Regions from separate parts of the Homo sapiens genome. Here region 1 is linked to region 2. The links come from fine-mapping of genetic effects on gene expression. A gene starts in region 2. The other region holds a variant in brackets. All regions are shown on one strand. Distances are from middle to middle.

Evidence for each region. PIP is the estimated chance that this variant, and not a neighbour inherited with it, causes the effect.
Region 1: its variant is fine-mapped to the expression of PROCR in cerebellar hemisphere (GTEx, PIP above 0.99). The same link has a PIP of 0.9 or more in cerebellum.

The regions. Positions count from the first base shown.
Region 1 is chr20:35,259,536-35,262,438 of GRCh38, forward strand. The region is part of intron 2 of MMP24-AS1-EDEM2 (MMP24-AS1-EDEM2 readthrough); the gene reads right to left. All of the region lies in intron 4 of MMP24 (matrix metallopeptidase 24), which reads left to right. Among named protein-coding and RNA genes, the nearest start is that of MMP24-AS1-EDEM2, 17 kb to the right of the region's middle. RefSeq lists enhancers at 1,739-2,500, 2,501-2,903. The variant T/G (reference allele first, on the strand shown) is at 1,118.
Region 2 is chr20:35,170,687-35,173,589 of GRCh38, forward strand. It overlaps PROCR (protein C receptor), which reads left to right and starts at 1,386. Exons shown (of 4, transcript NM_006404.5): 1 at 1,386-1,538. The coding sequence starts at 1,469. All of the region lies in intron 4 of MMP24-AS1-EDEM2 (MMP24-AS1-EDEM2 readthrough), which reads right to left.

The DNA of each region.
Region 1 (2,903 bases), 89 kb after region 2:
GGAAGTCATGGAAGGCTTCCTGGAAGACAGGCATGGAGCTGAACTTTGAAGGAATCAGGTTATTCCAGGGGAAGGGGCAGCACTGGCAGAAGAACAGAGGCAAAGGGAAATGCTATCACCTTTCGTGGGGCTGGGGGAGTTAATGAGATGGGAACGACCAAATATGGAGATCCTAAAAGAAAGAAATGAGGCAGAGACAAGGTCCACTTGAGTAGCCGAGTAGACTGCTGGGGACTTGCTCGGAGGCCCAGGGACTTACAGGAACACACCCTATCAGGGGTGCTGGTGCTCACACACAGCTCAACAGGACCCTGCTAATGAAGGGTAATACTTCTGTACCAGGAGCTGGTATCAGCGCATTACACACCCTGCCCCATGAATCTTCACCCACATCCCTATGACGAAGGTGCCATTGTTCCTTCTATCTTCCAGAGGAAGAATTTAAAATGTCACACTGCTAGGACATGGCAGAGCTGGGATTCAAAACCAGGCAGTCTGGCTCCCAGAGACTGCATTCCTGACCACTCTGCTTCCCTGCCGCTCACCCTCTTGAAGAGTGAAGACCCTAGCAGCCTCCTGCCCATGGAGCATGGGGTCCTCATAGCAGGCCTCTCCTCCTCATACCTCTGCCTTCACCTCACAAGCTCAGGGAGTCCTCCTGCCCCTGCCCTGCTCCCTCTGTCTCCCCCTCAGGGCTCTCTTGGGTTTCTGTGCAGCAGGATACTGGCTCCCTCGCTCTTCCCTTCCTTTTGGTTCCTGGACCCAAACCACAGGCCTCTTTCCTTTAAGGGGTCACTCCTGTTCTCTGCAGACCCAGAACAGGGGTTAAAAGAGCAAGAGACAAGGCTGCGGACAAAGGTTTTGAGTCTCCCACAGTGCTCAGAGCCGTGTTCCCTGGTTCCCAGCTGAGCTCCCTGTGGACAGCCCCTGGGGAAGAGCCTGCTCAGGAGACAGAGGCCCTGAACAGCTTGTCCCAGGTCATAGAATAGCCCAGGAGCACAGCCAGGACTGGACCCCAGGAAGCAGAGCTGCCTTCCGCTGGCTCTACCAGTTTGTTTGGGATGGAGCTCAGCGATGAGCTCACCCTTCCCTGCTGCCAGAGGGGCCAGGACCTGAG[T/G]AAGGAGCTGGGGGCGGCCTGGCCCTCTCATGCCAGCAGAAGGCCAGCCCCAGGCTTTTGGCCAACCTTGCACTGATCTTGCCCATCCCCCTTCCTTTCCGTTGCTCAAAGGTGGCTTCACAGAAGACACTGGCGGTGTCAGTAGTGTGGGAGGCATGTACTGCCCGTGGCCTGGGTCTGCCCCATGGGGTTCTTCTCTCTTCCAGAGACCTAAGCCAGGAAGGCCAAACAATCCCCACCCCCATGTGTCCCTAGGCCAGTGACGCTGGGGCCAGAGTGGGCAGTAGGACTCTAGACCACCTCCTAGGTTCCTGGCAGCCTCCCTGGACTTACAGGTGGCAGGAATGGGCCGAGCCATGCCTTAGGGCCAGAAGATAAGAGGCAGGGCTCAAGGGGCTACAAATGCCAGAGGTCAAGGCAAGCAAGGGTCTGACACTGGGCAGACAGGAGTCAGGACTGGTGATCCACAGCCTACCTGACTCCCTACCCCCTGCATTTTCTCCCCAAAGCTGCGGTTACTTCATCCCCCTAAGTTCAGGCCTCCTTGTCCTGTCCTAGGCACAATACAGAAGCCCAGGGGAGTTGGCTTTCAGAGGATCTGGTTGCTGGCGCTCCACTGGCCTCGTGCTTCCTTTCTGGTCAATGGGCTTCCTCCAGTAACCAAGCTTCTATCTTACATAGGATTACAACAGCTGCCATTCTGTGTCATACCACGCACTTCACGTGTATCTTATTCAACCTCACACAACCCGGTGAGGTAGGTCTGATGCCCCCAGTTTACAAGTGAGGACATTGAGGCTTAGGGGTAGCCCTGCTGGCCATATTCACAAACTGGCAGGGGGAATGAAGGTAATCTGTCCTACTCAGGAGCCCAAGCTCGTAACCACCGTGCCATGGAGCTGCCTCAGTTCCACCCTCAGGATCCTGTGTCCCACTTCCAGGACCTGGAGTGTGTTTTCACCTACACTTGAATCCCTGCCTCAATCTTAGCCAACAGTTCCCTGCTTCCACAACCAAGGTCCTGCAGAGAGCTGCCCACGCCCGGGCCCCACCTGCCCTGCCCGGGGTCTCCTGAAGCTGACTGCCAGTTTGCCAGGACTTGCTCTCTTTGTCCCCACTCCCTCCCTCCACCTCAGGGCATCCTTTTTTTTTTTTTTTTTTTTTTTGAGATGGAGTCTCACTCTGTTGCCCAAGCTGGAGTGCAGTGGCGCGATCTTGGCTCACTGCAACCTCCACCTCCCAGGATCAAGCGATTCTCCTGCCTCTACCTCCGGAGTAGCTGGTACTATAGGCGCAGGCCACCATATCTGGCTAATTTTTGGTATTTTTAGTAGAGATGGGGTTTCACCATGTTGGCCAAGCTGGTCTCGAACTCCTGACCTCAAGTGATCCACCCCGATCAGCCTCCCAAAGTGCTGGGATTACAGGCGTGAGCCACCACGCCCAGCCAGCTCAGGGCCTTTTCATCTCTTGTAGGGGTGGGTTGCCCCTCCACACCTGTGGGTGTTTCTCGTAAGGTGGAATGAGAGACTTAGGAAAGAAAAAGACACAGAGACAAAGTATAGAGAAAGAAATAAGGGGACCCAGGGAACCAGCGCTCACCATATGGAGGATCCCGCCAGCCTCTGAGTTCCCTTAGTATTTATTCATCATTTGTGGGTGTTTCTCGAAGAGGGGGATGTGTCAGGGTCACAAGACAATTGTGGGGAGAGGGTCAGCAGACAAACACGTGAACAAAGGTCTTTGCATCATAGAGAATGTAAAGGATTAAGTGCTGTGCTTTTAG
Region 2 (2,903 bases):
GTGGCACAGTGGCACGTACCTTTAGTCTCAGCTACTCGGGTGGTTGAGGTGGGAGAATCACTTGAGCCCGGGAGGTCAAGCCTACAATTAGCTGTGATTGCTTCACTGCACTATAGCCTGGGCAACAGAGCTAGACCCTGTCTCAAAAAAATAATAATAAATTTTATATATATATATGAGGATGAAATTACATATGTATTATTTGAACAGAAGTGAAATCTTTTCTTTTTTTTTTTCAGACAGAATCTTGCCGCATGACCCAGGCTAGAATGCAGTGGTGTGATCTCGGCCCTCTGCAACCTCCACCTCCCAGGTTCAAGCGATTCTCATGCCTCGGTCTCCCAAGTAGCTGGGATTACAGGCATGCACCACCATGCCCAGCTAATTTTTGTATTTTTCGTAGAGACGTTCGCCATATTGGCCAGGCTGGTCTCAAACTCCTGGCCTCAAGTGATCTGCCCACCTCGGCCTCCCAAAGTGCCAGCAGCATGCTCGGAGGAGTGACTTTAAAGCTTTTCTACTTGCTTCCTAGAGTAAGGGACGCATTTTACACTGCTATCCAAAACTCATCATAGAAACATACACACACAAAACCAAAGCACACATATACAACTGAGCAAATATTTCATGACATAACACTTTCTCTTACTAAGGGTGACGCGCTGAAATTTTGTATTCTGTCCTATTTCATTTTTTAAAAATGGTAACCATGACCTGCTAAATTGATTTCATTGTCCACTAATAAATTATGACCTCAGTTTCAAAAAGATTGCTTTAGGTAACCAATCATCTTCTGAGATTTATACAGATTGCTCATAATTCTCTCCTATTTTTTAAAAACATGCTGCAGTGAACTGCTTTACACTCATTTTATGACTACTTCTGAGACCAAGATCCCGGATTATGTAATTGTTATTTACTTAAAATTCTGGTAAAATGTAGCCATTATACTGGAAAACTAAATTTTAATCTTGGATCTGTCACCACCATGATATATAAACTTTGGGCAAGTCCCTGCACCTCTCTGGACCTCAATCTCCCCATCAGCAACCTGCTGATCCTACTCCCAGGAGTGTGCTCTAAGTTGAAAGTAGATGCCCCACCCCCTGAGTCAGCGCCGGCAGGACTTCTCACCAAGCCCTTCTCCCCCTTTTCCGCTCCCTGTTCCTGGTTCCTAGGAAGCAGCCCAAGGAGAAGGGAAAAGGCAGGTCTGGGCAGGAGGGAGCAATGAAGGGCGGGGCAGAGGGAGGGCAGGAGGGAGGCCGGCCCCCTAGTAGGAAATGAGACACAGTAGAAATAACACTTTATAAGCCTCTTCCTCCTCCCATCTCCTGGCCTCCTTCCATCCTCCTCTGCCCAGACTCCGCCCCTCCCAGACGGTCCTCACTTCTCTTTTCCCTAGACTGCAGCCAGCGGAGCCCGCAGCCGGCCCGAGCCAGGAACCCAGGTCCGGAGCCTCAACTTCAGGATGTTGACAACATTGCTGCCGATACTGCTGCTGTCTGGCTGGGCCTTTTGTAGCCAAGACGCCTCAGATGGTGAGTCGGGGGCACATCTCCTGCCTCAGGATGGTTCTGGAGAATCTCAGTCTATCTGGGCACATGGCAAGACCACAGGAGAGCTTATCTCACAGCATCTGTGTCTGCAGCTGGCTAGATCTCTCTACAGGGCAGGCAGAGTCTTGGGGACTGGTTCGTGTCCCAAAGCCAAGGTGAGTTAGTACATTTAAGCCCCTGAAAAGGGGGAGATGAAAGAGGCTAGGGGAAACAGGATGACTGGAAACATGAGAAAGAAACCAGCAGAGAGGGTAGGAGAATCAGCCCCAGGGAGAGGGGAGAAAGGGGAACTGAGGGTGATGGTAGATAGGGGTACATCTAGGGGAGACGGGAAGAGGCTCAGAAGAGAAGAGAAATGGAGGGAATGGGAAGACCCTGGGAAAACTGATGGAAGAAGTGGGGGAAGAGTGGGGCAGAGAGAGGTTAGGGGAGGCTAGGGAAAATGGAAGGAGACTGGTCGCAGCTGGTGGAACTGGGGAGAAAGAGATGCTGTGCCTAATAGAACTTATGGGCGATCAGGCTACTGAAGTGGCCCTGTTTAAGCAGAAAAGGGAGTTATTACCCTCCATTATAATTGCACAGGGGCCTCCTTTCCCCTCTCTCACAATCCCCGTAACTTCAGTCTCCCCCTCAGAGAGGCAGCAAATAATAACCAGTATTCAATGAGTGCTCACTATGGTTAATACATGTATTGACCCATTTAACTTGCACAAACCCCTAAAGGTGGGTAATATTATTACTATCTCCATTTTATGAGGAGGAAACTGGGTCACAGAGTAGTTAAGGACCATGTCTAGGGTTATCCATAAATATACTTATTCACATCTGCAGATACAAAGCACAACTTCTCAAATGCAAACACAGACAGGACCCACTCACACACACAGATTTACAACCCCGGACTCATCCAAATGTGCTCTGGGCATCAACTCTGTGCCAGCCTCTTTTCTGGGTGTAGGAAGCAGAGATTACCAAGCATGGTTCCATAGCCTAGAGGAGTCCAGTGTGGCCTGTGTGTGTTTGGAGACAGCCAGGTAGTATCCCGTGAGATACACACTAATATATGGTGGTCTGGGATCACTGAAACAGACACACTGTGTCTCGTGGGGCATCAGAAAAAAATTTCCAAGAAGAGGGCAACTGAGCTGGGTCTTTTTTTCTTTGCTTTTCTTTCTTTTTTCTTTTTTTTTTTTTTTTTTTTTTTTGAGATGGAGTCTTGTGCTGTCACCCAGGCTGGAATGCAGTGGCACAATTTCAGCTAACTGTAACCTCCAACTCCCAGGTTCAGGCGATTCTCCTGCCTCAGCCTCCTGAGTAGCTGGGACTACAGGCATGTACCACCACGCC